Regions from separate parts of the Homo sapiens genome. Here region 1 is linked to region 2. Evidence: fine-mapped expression QTL. Tissue or cell type: whole blood. Region 2 holds a variant in brackets; the other region holds the start of a gene. All regions are shown on one strand. Distances are from middle to middle.

Evidence for each region. PIP is the estimated chance that this variant, and not a neighbour inherited with it, causes the effect.
Region 1: PRAG1 starts here. The variant in region 2 is fine-mapped to the expression of PRAG1 in whole blood (TOPMed, PIP above 0.99).

What each region holds. Positions count from the first base shown.
Region 1 is chr8:8,383,308-8,388,457 of GRCh38, reverse strand. It overlaps PRAG1 (PEAK1 related, kinase-activating pseudokinase 1), which reads left to right and starts at 2,019. Exons shown (of 6, transcript NM_001080826.3): 1 at 2,019-2,137. RefSeq lists a silencer at 1,637-2,316.
Region 2 is chr8:8,297,230-8,302,379 of GRCh38, reverse strand. No RefSeq gene overlaps it. Among named protein-coding and RNA genes, the nearest start is that of FAM85B, 72 kb to the right of the region's middle. The variant A/G (reference allele first, on the strand shown) is at 2,544.

The sequences.
Region 1 (5,150 bases), 86 kb before region 2:
ACCTACCTGTTTAATCAACATCTTCCCCTCTTGAGTCTTGGTAGGGTCTGGATCTTTCAGCTCTGTTGGATGCTCATGAAGTGTAACCAAAGTTTCCCTTCCTTTTTTTTTTTTTTTTTTTTTTGAGACAGGGTCTTGCTCTGATACCCAAGCTGGAGTGTAGTGGTGCGATCTCAGCTCACTGCAACCTCCACCTCCCTGGCTCATGTGAGTCTCCTGCCTCAGCCTCCTGAGTAGCCGGGATTACAGGCGCCCACCACCACACTCGACTAATTTTTGTATTTTTAGTAGAGATGAGGTTATACCACATTGCCCAGGCTGTTCTTGAACTCCTGGCCTCAGGTGATCTGCCAGCCTCGGCCTCCCAAAATGCTGGGATTACAGGTGTGAGCCACCGCGCACGGCCAGTATTTGTTCAAATGATTTCTCTCCACTTAGGGGAGAGAGAAAAATAGGGCTGGACTACCTGCACTTGGCAAGGGCAGAGTGGCAGAGTAGACTTGCCTACCAGCGAAGCCAGACAGCCTTTGGTTCCAATCTTAGTACTACCACTTTTCAGCTGAGGAACCCCAGCAAATTGTGAGGCCCCCGAGCCTCAGTTTTCTTATCTGTAGAATGGGGATAATGATGCTCTCCTCATAGGATTGCTTAGCGCTGGGTAGGTCCTTAAGGAATGTCCATTGCACTCCCATCCCTCTACAGCTTCCCCCAGATTCTGTCCTCTTAGGAGGCATGGGTGTCACTGGAACATGAGGAAGAATTCCCTGGATCCTTTTTTCCCTTTCCTCACACAGAAGCCAAACCTCAAATACACATCTTCCCTCTCTGTCCACACCCACAGCAGCAAAGAGGAGAGCCAGGGATCTGGGGGTGGGGGTGGGGGCCCATCTTCCTCCTCTCAGTGGGTGGGGGCTCGCAGGCTGACTGGCAGAGGACCTTCACTGGAGTCAAAATAAACTGCCTTCCTGGGGAGGGGATAGAGGGCGAGAGAAGCCGCAGGTATTGTTTTGTGGGGGAGGGGGGTCCTCTTCCTATTCCATTTCACTGAATTCTTCCCACCCGGCATGGCCCTGGGAGGTGACCATAGCCCTGGCTCCCCGAGTAAACACCCAGGTCAAGCTACAGGACTGACTGGGTCTTAAGCTATTATACTCCCAGTGAAAAGATTTTTTTAGCCCGAGGACTATCTCGAACTCGTTCTATCTCAGTGAATGACTCACTGGAAACGGTGTAAACACAGGTGTATTACTGGCCTGCGGAAGACTTGGATGTCCCAGCATGGTAGAAGGCCAGGTCCCTGCAGTGCAACGCTTGCATTCTACATCCAGAAAACTAAAGTTCAAAGAGGTTAAGCAATTTGCCAGAATCCTGCAGTCCAGGGACTGAGCGGAACCTGGAATCCGCCACCGGGACTTCCAGCCCTGCTCCCTCCGGCGCCACCCTCTTCCCAGAGGTAGGGAGAGCTGAGGCTCGCTGTGCTCACGTGGCTTTCAGAGCCCGCCTCGGACCCTGACCTGTATTCCACTCCCGACCCCACACTTCCTCGTTTCCCCTTCCTTCTCCCTCTCTTCCCAGGGTCCCGCAGGGCCGGCTGGATGAAGTGATGCCGGGCACCTATACACGCATGATGGCAAAAGGAGGATTGCAACGCCAGAGCTCGCCCCTCCAGAGCTGTGCAGGGTCCCCACCGAGGAGGGGGTGCAAACGGGTGCTGGGCTCGGGGGTCAGCCCGCGCCAAGTCTGGGGCTGGGGGCGGAGCCTGCCGGTCCGGGGCGGGAGGGTGGGCAAGAGAGGGAGTCCCGGGGCCTGGAGACTTTGGAGGAGTCGGGGCCCTGGGGGTAGGAGACCGCCGGGTGGGAGCGGCAGGCGCAAGCCGGGCGGCGGGGCGCGCGGGCCAGGCGGGGCCGGGCGGCGGCAGGGACTGCGGAGGTGCGGCGTGAGCTGGGGCGGGCGGCGTCACCGGAGGCGGAGGGGGCGGAGCCGCGCTCACAGCTGCCACCCGGCCGCCGGGCCCAGGCAGAAGCCACCCGCCCGCGGCCGGGCACGCACCGCGCGCAGACCTTCTGCGAACAATGCTCCGGCCGGGCGGCTGGCGGCTCGGAGACCGACGGAGGGGCCGGGGGAGCGCAGCCCAGAGGTGAGCCCGCGACGCGCTCTCCAAATTCGGCCTCTTTTTGTCTGGCGAGCGTGGTCGCAGAGGGGAGCTTTGGAGGGGCGCTGCGATCGCCGAGCGGGCTACCCCCGGGGTGACAGGCGACCGCTCGGGAAGTGGGCAGTGCCGGGGCCGCGTGAGCCCCGGGTGGTGCCCGAGGTGCAGGGAGGCGCCCGGCCGGGAGGACCGAGGAGCTGGAGGGTGTTTTTGATTCATTCGAGAATCGCGCTCTTTAAAACGGGGAAACTTTCCTACGAGTTCCAGGAGGGAGGACCGACTGTTAGGATGGTTTCTCTGGTCTTGCTGCTCTGTCTGCGGCCGGAGGCTGAAGCGCTTTGAGGACTGCTTTCCACCGCTAGAGTATTGTCAAGGGGGAGAGACGGAAGGCCGCCTGGCTGCTGGGACCAGGACCCGGGGGGATGGTTTGGGGGTGCAGGGTATGCAGCAGCGGGGCTCCAGAGGCAACGAGATGATGCCCTTTTCCCCGAGCCCTGGCTGAGCCCTCTGAAACGCATGCTGTGAGCACGTTATTAACCTTTGCTGGTATCCGGGGACACACACACTTAGAACATAGAATCCTCTGCTGGGCATGGAGGCGGCCGGGCATTCGCAGCGGAGAGCGCCAGCTCACGGTGTGTGCGTTTCTCTCAGGTAAGCTCTCCCTGCACATGGTTTTGCAGAGCCGATAGCAAAGCCCAATGGTCTAGGGGCGAGGAGTTTTGGCGATGCATTCAGTGCGGAGTCAGGCTCAGAAGGCTTTCCTGATCACTGGCCTGAACTATTCTTAACAACTCCTCTCCCCTTCCCTTTCTGAGAAGAAAATTTGACAGAAAGCCCTAGGGAATTCCGCAGTTATTTTTCTCTCCTGAGGTCTGGTTGGTTTCGACTGTAGTGGGTGCAAAACCACATTCCTCCCTCTGAGATTTTCTTTCCTCCAGCACTGGAGGAAGAAAAAAGAAAAGGAAAAGTTGGGTGAATATCGTAATTTACCCTCTGCGTGAGTAGGGAGGCAGGGGGCTAGTGGGTGGTAAAGTTGTCACTTTCTCCTTTCTGCCTGGTCAGCCCTGGCCAGTGGAGTGTGCTGAAGTTCAGACACTTTCCACACATATTTCTTTCCTTTTACTGGCGTTGCATTAATTTAACTGTAACATACAGAAAAAAATTTTAGGTGAATGTTTTCTGCAATTCTGTCACTTCAGAATAAGGCATAAGCAACTTCTGATGTAAGTCTGAGGGGGTATTTTGGGCCAAAATATTTAATCTTAAAGATCTGGCCACCTTGATTCTTCAGATTCTTTTTTGAAATGGGGTGGGAGTGTATCTGACAGCTTCAGTCTTGCAAACTGTAGCCACAAATCTAGTGCAGAAGTTTGCAGAGGCAAAGACATTTTTTTCATGACTTGGATCAGAAAGAATGCTGAGCTCTTTTTTCTAATCTGACACTGCAGCCTCCTACTGAAATGGGGAGGATTTGCATAATTCTGGGGGCTGCCTCCCCTCAGAAGTAAGGAATGTGGGCTGCGAAGTGCCTTCCCCATGCTGTGGAGAGCTGGCACTGCTGCACCAGGCAAGGCGAGGCAAGGCTTTGTGGGTGCCACTTGTGTTTCTCACCATCTTTTACTTAAAACAAATAGGAGATAATTCCAGGCACAGAAGTGCAACGGGAAAAGAGGTTTTTTTTTTTTTTTTTTTTTTTTGGCTGCATGCGGTGGTAAATTCTGTTTGCTGCGACTGAGAAACCAGTTTTAACAGGATGCAGTGAGTCAATGACAGTGGGAAGCCCAGGGCTTCATTTGTTCTTTTCTTATTCAATGACTTCCCTTTAAAAATCTTTGCGTCCATCCGTCCCTGGCAGTCGTGTGATGAAAGTTGCCTCTCTAAACATCCAAGGATTTCTGAGCTGAGAATGGGAGCAAAGAGTGCTCGTAAACTGATGAGACATTCTCAAGGAAACTTCCCCCACGCTAGCAATCCAGATCCTTCCACACTCCCTTTGCACAGGGCTGTGCAAAGGTTGGGGAATCTTAGAAAGTAGGGCCTCTGATACCAATGTCACCCCTTCCGCAAAAACAAGTTTGTGTTCTTACTTGCCTGTTGAGGAGGCAATAAGTCGCCAAGCAGAACTGCTGCTTTGTGAATCTGTGATAGACCCTGAGGAAGTGGTTGGGCACCCACCTCCTCAGATAGCCCAGTGTCAGGAGGAGCTGTGGGAACTTGCAGAGCCCACACAGAGCTGGTTTCCAAACTGTCTTCCTCCATCCCGCGGAGCAGGCATGGGAGCATCTGCCTGCAGTGGAGGTGGGCTGGACAGTGTCCTTTCTGTGGCCTAGAAGGTGTAGACAGTCTTCACCCATCAGCGTCCCAGGAAGGGACCTACTGCCTATTCCTGAAGGCTGGAATACTTCCTCTGCTTTTTCCCCCTCCCAAAACTTAGCAGCAAGGCTACAGTTCTCTGTGGCCTGAGATTATAAGAGAAAGACAAAACCTGGCTATTTCCTCCGCTTGTTGAAGCCCAGTGACCTCTTCTGGAGAACTTGGCAAAGAAGGAACCTGCTACTTGGGTGTATTTGGAGGAGGAGAAGAACCTAGCTAACAGTCTTCTTAAAGAAAAGGACCTGTGAGACCCTAACAATAACTGCTAAAAGATACTTTTCTTTTATTTCAGAGGATTTATTTAGCTTAAAGATGCAGTGGGCTTTATTCTTAACTTTTTTTTTGTTTTTTTAGACAGGGTCTCACTCTAGTCACCCAGGCTGGAGTGCAGTGGTGTGATCATGGCTCACTGCAGCCTTGACCTCCTGGGCTCAGGCAGTCCTCCTACCTCAGCCTCCCAAGTAGCTGGGACCACAGGCATGCATGGCTACACCTGGATAGTTTTTTTAAATAATTATTATCTTTGTAAAGACAGAGTGTCTCTGTGTTACCCAGGCTGGTCTCAAACTCCTGGGCTCAAGCGATCGTCCTGCCTCGGCCTCCCAAAGTGCTGGGATTACAGGCG
Region 2 (5,150 bases):
CAATTTGGGGCCTACACACAGACTAGGTGGTCTCCAGGATGTCCAAAAAACAAAAAGAAGGTTAGAAGATTTATAAAAAAAGAAGAAATGTTACATATTGCTTTTTCACAAAGTTTATTGGTGCTAGTAACTGTTTGGGGAGATTGCAAACTCTGATCTGTGACCGATGGCAGTGGGCATAATTAGTCCTAGAGTTGCAGCAAGTTATCACCAAAGGTATAAATAATACTGGTTTCAGGTTACCACAAGCAGTTACAGCAGTCAGGCTTGCAGATAATTGTGTTCTTTAAACAGTCTTTTGTACCCTGAGTGTCTTTTCCTCTCTGGCTTCTGGTCTCTGTTTTAGTTGGGTATGACAAGTATGACCCAATTCTTATGACCAACTTTCACATCTGTTACGTGATCTGTAATCGGTGTGATCTTTGATGCTTTTGGTTGTAATTGTTTTGCAGCATAACAAATCATGCTCACATTAGATTATTAATGGATAAATGTTGTGTGTGTTCTGAGAACTCCACTGACCACCTGTTCCCCCATCCCTCTGCCTCTTCTTGGCCCTCCCTATTCTCAAAGGTGCAACAATATTAAAATTAAGCCAATTAACAATCCCACAATGACCTCTAAGTGTTCAAGTGAAAGGAAGAGTCACATGTCTCTCACTTTAAACCAAAAGCTAGAAATGATGAAGCTTAGTTTCATAATAAGAAATTTCAAGTCTTTTTATTTAAGAAATACAATTAATAAGGCTATACTGCCATAGATAGAAGAAGGTATGCTGAAAGCCAAGATAGGCCAAAACTGGGCCTCTTGCACCAAACATCCAAACTGTGAATGCAAAGAAAAAGTTCCTGAAGAAAATTAAAAGTGCCATTCCTGGGAACACACAAATGATAAGAAGTGAAACAACCTTATTGCTGAGATGGAGAAAGTTTAGTGGTCTGGATGGAAGATCAAACCAGCCACAACATTTCCTTAAGCCAAAGCCTAATACAAAGGAAGGTGCTACCTCTCTTCAGTTCTATGGAGGCTGAAACAGATGAGCAATCTGCAGAAGAAAAGTTGAAAGCAGAGGTTGGTTCATAAGGCTTAAGGAACTAAAACATCTCCATAACATACAAGTCCAAAATGAAAGCAACAAGGGCTGATATAGAAGCTATAGCAAGTTATCCAGGAGATCTAGCTAAGATCACTGATGAAGGTGGCTATACTAACAACAGATTTTTGATGTAGATGAAACAGCCTTCTCTTGGAAGAAGATGCCTTCCAGGACTTTTATAGCTAGAGAGAAAAAGCTGTTGCTTGCCTTTAAAACTTCAAAGGACAGGCTAGCTCTCTTGTTAGGGGCTAATGTAGCTGGAGACTTCAAGTCGAAACCAATGCTTATTTACCATTGCAAAAATCCTAGGATCCTGAGAAATTATGCTAAATCTTCTCTGCCTGCGCTCTATAAATGGAACAGCAAAGCCTGGTGACAACACATCTGTTTACAGCATGGTATATTGAATATTTTAAGCTCACTGTTGATATCTACTGCTCAGAAAAATATTCCTCTCAAAATATTACTGTTCACTGACAATGCACCTGGTTACCCAAGAGCTCTGATGGAGATGTCCAAGGAGATAAATGTTGTTTTCATGCCTTCTAACCCAACATCCATCTGCAGCCCACAGCTCAAGAAGTAATTTTGACTTTGAAGTCTTATTATTTAAGAAACACATTTCATAAGGCTGTAACTGCCATGGATAGTGATTCCTCTGATGGATCTAGGCAAAATCAATTGAAAACCTTATGAAAAGGATTTACTATTCTAAATGCCATTAAGAACATTCTTATTCATGGAACAGGTCAAAATATCAACATTAACAGGGGTTTGGAAGAAGTTGATTCTAACCCTCATAGATGACTTTGAGGGGCTTACGTCTTCAGTGAGGAAGTAGCTGCAGAGTTGGTGGAGATAATAAGAGAACCAGAATAAGAAATGAGCCTGAAGATGTGACTGAATTGCTGCAATCTCAAAATAAAGTTTGAACAGATGAGAAGTTGCTTCTCATGGATGAGCAAAGAAAGTGGTTTCTTGAGATGGAATCTACCGCTAGTGAAGACACTACGAACATTGTTGAAATGACAACAAAATATTTCAAATATTACATAAATTTGGTTGATACAGCAGGGGCAGGATTTGAGAGAGTTGACTACAATTTTGAAAGTGCTATTACAGATAAAATGCTATGCAACATTCTTACACGCTACAGAGAAATCTTTTATGAAAAGAAGAGTCAATCAATGGTGCAAACTGCGCTGTTCTTATTTAAAGAAACTGCCATAGCCACCCTCACTTTCAGCAACCACCATCCTGATCAGTCAGCAGCCATCAACATCAAAGCAAGACCCTCCACCAGAAAAAGATTACAACTCCCTGAAAACTCAGATGATCATTAGCTTTTTTAGCAATAAACTATTTTAAAATTAAGATGTGTATATTTTTTCAGACATAATGCTATTACATCCTTAAGGGAGTAGAGCATAGTGTGAACATAACTTTT[A/G]TATGCACTGGGAAACCAAAAAAACCTTATGACTTGCTTTATTGAGGTATTTGCTTTATTGAAGTGGTCTGGAACTGAACCCACAATATCTCTGCGGTATCTCTGTGTAGATATGCTTTCTTTTCTCTTGGGTAAATACACAGCAGTAGAATGACTGGGTCATAAAGTAGGTGTTAGCTTAACTTTTTAGAACCTGCCAAATAGTTTTCCAAAGTGGTTATGCCATTATATATAATTGCCTGCTGTCTATGAGAGTTCCAGTTCTTCTGTGTGACTTGGCATGACCAGTCTTTATCATTTTAATTTTACACATTTGTGTGTGTTTCGTGTGTGGGGTTGGGGGAAGGATTTCTTGTGATTCCTTTGGGAGAGAGTCATTGAGGTGATAGGAACATTTTAAATCTTTTGATTCATATTGTAAATTGTTTTTCATAAAATTCTGCTTTCTGTTTACCTTCCCACCAAAGATTTCATCTTATTGGCCTTTGCATCTAAAATCCCCTTCATTTCCCTCCAAATTCCTATACTGCAAGTCCCCATGTACCATCCTTCAGTAGGGGTAGTGTGTGTGGAGAAGAAAGGTTTTGGGGGGTTTCTTGATATTATTGTTGGCCTCCACTATGGCCCCCTGCTCTTCCTCGAATCTTTTCAGGGGTAAAGATTTCAAAGCATGAGGTAGGATGGAGTTGATGAGGTAGAGATCGAGGAAACGCAGGCTGTGGTGGGAATGGGAAGGTATTGTTAATGAGCATCCAAGGCTGATTTCCAGACCATGAGCTGGCTTTTGCCCAAGAGTAGGATTTAACTGGAGTTCCTAAAAGCCTGAGCAGCTTTTATTTTTCTGTCTCTCGAGCACCACTTCACTATTTGTAATCACTTATGGATACTTTTTTTTATAATTGCTCCATCTATAATATCTTTTTGGAAAAATTCAGCCCAGGGGTTACATTAGAAGGCCATCTTTCATGTCGTTTCCAGTTTTATGGTTCTCCTGAGGCTGTTTTCCCTTAAAAAAAAATCAATGACTACTGCATGTGTCTCTTTCGCAGTGAAGGTTTCTGCCCTTGCACAGATGTTAGAGAACTTTATCATGGGTGCAGCCCCATCATCTTACCTGAGCAGTGAGCTTGGGGATCCACAAATTTATTTTTCCTGTCAAGTTTTAGCCCATTAGCATTCCTCGTATGGGGAGTTTGGCAGAATATGGAGGTTTATCTGCTTGGACAACTGGCTCAGCCCAACCTCTAAGGGACTGGATGGGATTACTCTTTTGAAACCCCAGCCAGACCCAGCCGAGGGCCTGCACGAAGGCTGATCCCTTTCCAGCCTGGCTAGCTCACACTGGGGTCTAGGCAGGGGAGTCTGACGTGCCGCCTTGTTTTGATGGTCACAGGGTGGCATGTGAGTTGGCTTTTTCTGTGCTTTGTAGGAGATGTGAGGGCCTTGACTTGGGGGAATATGGGAAGATACAGGATGAACTATTAATGACTGGATGCAACAGTTCTTTTAACTTACAATTAAAGTTATTTATTTGTTTATTTATTTATTTATTTATTTATTTTTAGAAGTGGGCGTCTCCCTCTATTGCCCAGGCTGGAATGCAGTGGCGCGATCATGGCTCACTGCAGCCTCAGACCCCTGTGCTCAAGTGATCCTCCCACCTCAACCTCCGGAATAACTGAGACTACAGGCACATGCCACTACACCCGGCTAATTTTTAAAATTTTTTGTAGGGATGGGGGTCTCACTATGTTGCCTGGGGTGGTCTTGAACTTCTGGCCTCAAGAGACCCTACGGCCAAATAGATGAATGAGTAAGATCTTCAATAACCACTATCAGCAATCAAGATTACTGAAGAGTCTCTGTCATGTTCTTCTTACCACCATCCTTCTGAAATATATATCGGGTTATCTCAGTCTATTTAGTATTGCTCTGAAGGGAGGCCTGAGACTGGGTAATTTAGATAGAGAAACATGTTTATTTGGCTTACAATGCTGGTGTCTGAAAAAGTCCAAGTTTGGGCATCTGCATCGGTGAGGGTCTCAGGTTGCTTCCACTCTTGGTGGAAGTTGGAGGGGAGCCAGCGGGTGCAGAAATCACATGGAGAGGGAAGAAAAGAGAGAGAGGAAGCGCCAGGCTCTTTTAAACAACCAGTTCTTGCAGGAACTAATAGAGAACTCACTCACAACCCCCTACAGGGAGGTTATGAATCTGTTCATGAGGGATCTGCCCCAGGACTCAGCACCTCCCGTTAGACCCCACGTCCAACATTGGAGATCAAATTTCAACTTGAGGCTTGGACAAACATCCAGACTATATCAAGTCTTTGTATTTAGCTAACACTTTGCTTCCAGAGGCTAAGCCTTTCTCAAGATCGCCAAACAGCTTACTTTAGGAGAGGTTTTCTTGAATTTTAGCATGAGTTTTCCCCTGAGAATGAACCCTCTGCTGTAGCTAGCGGTCCTTTCTTCTTTCCTCTTCTCACATTATCTTTCTCTCTCGCCCTCTTTGGCCTTCTCTTGATTTCCAGCTGCTCTTTGTCTCAACCCATTATTCCATGAGTGGGGAGACATTTCCGCTTATTAAAATCCCTCCCCCAGAGTTCCC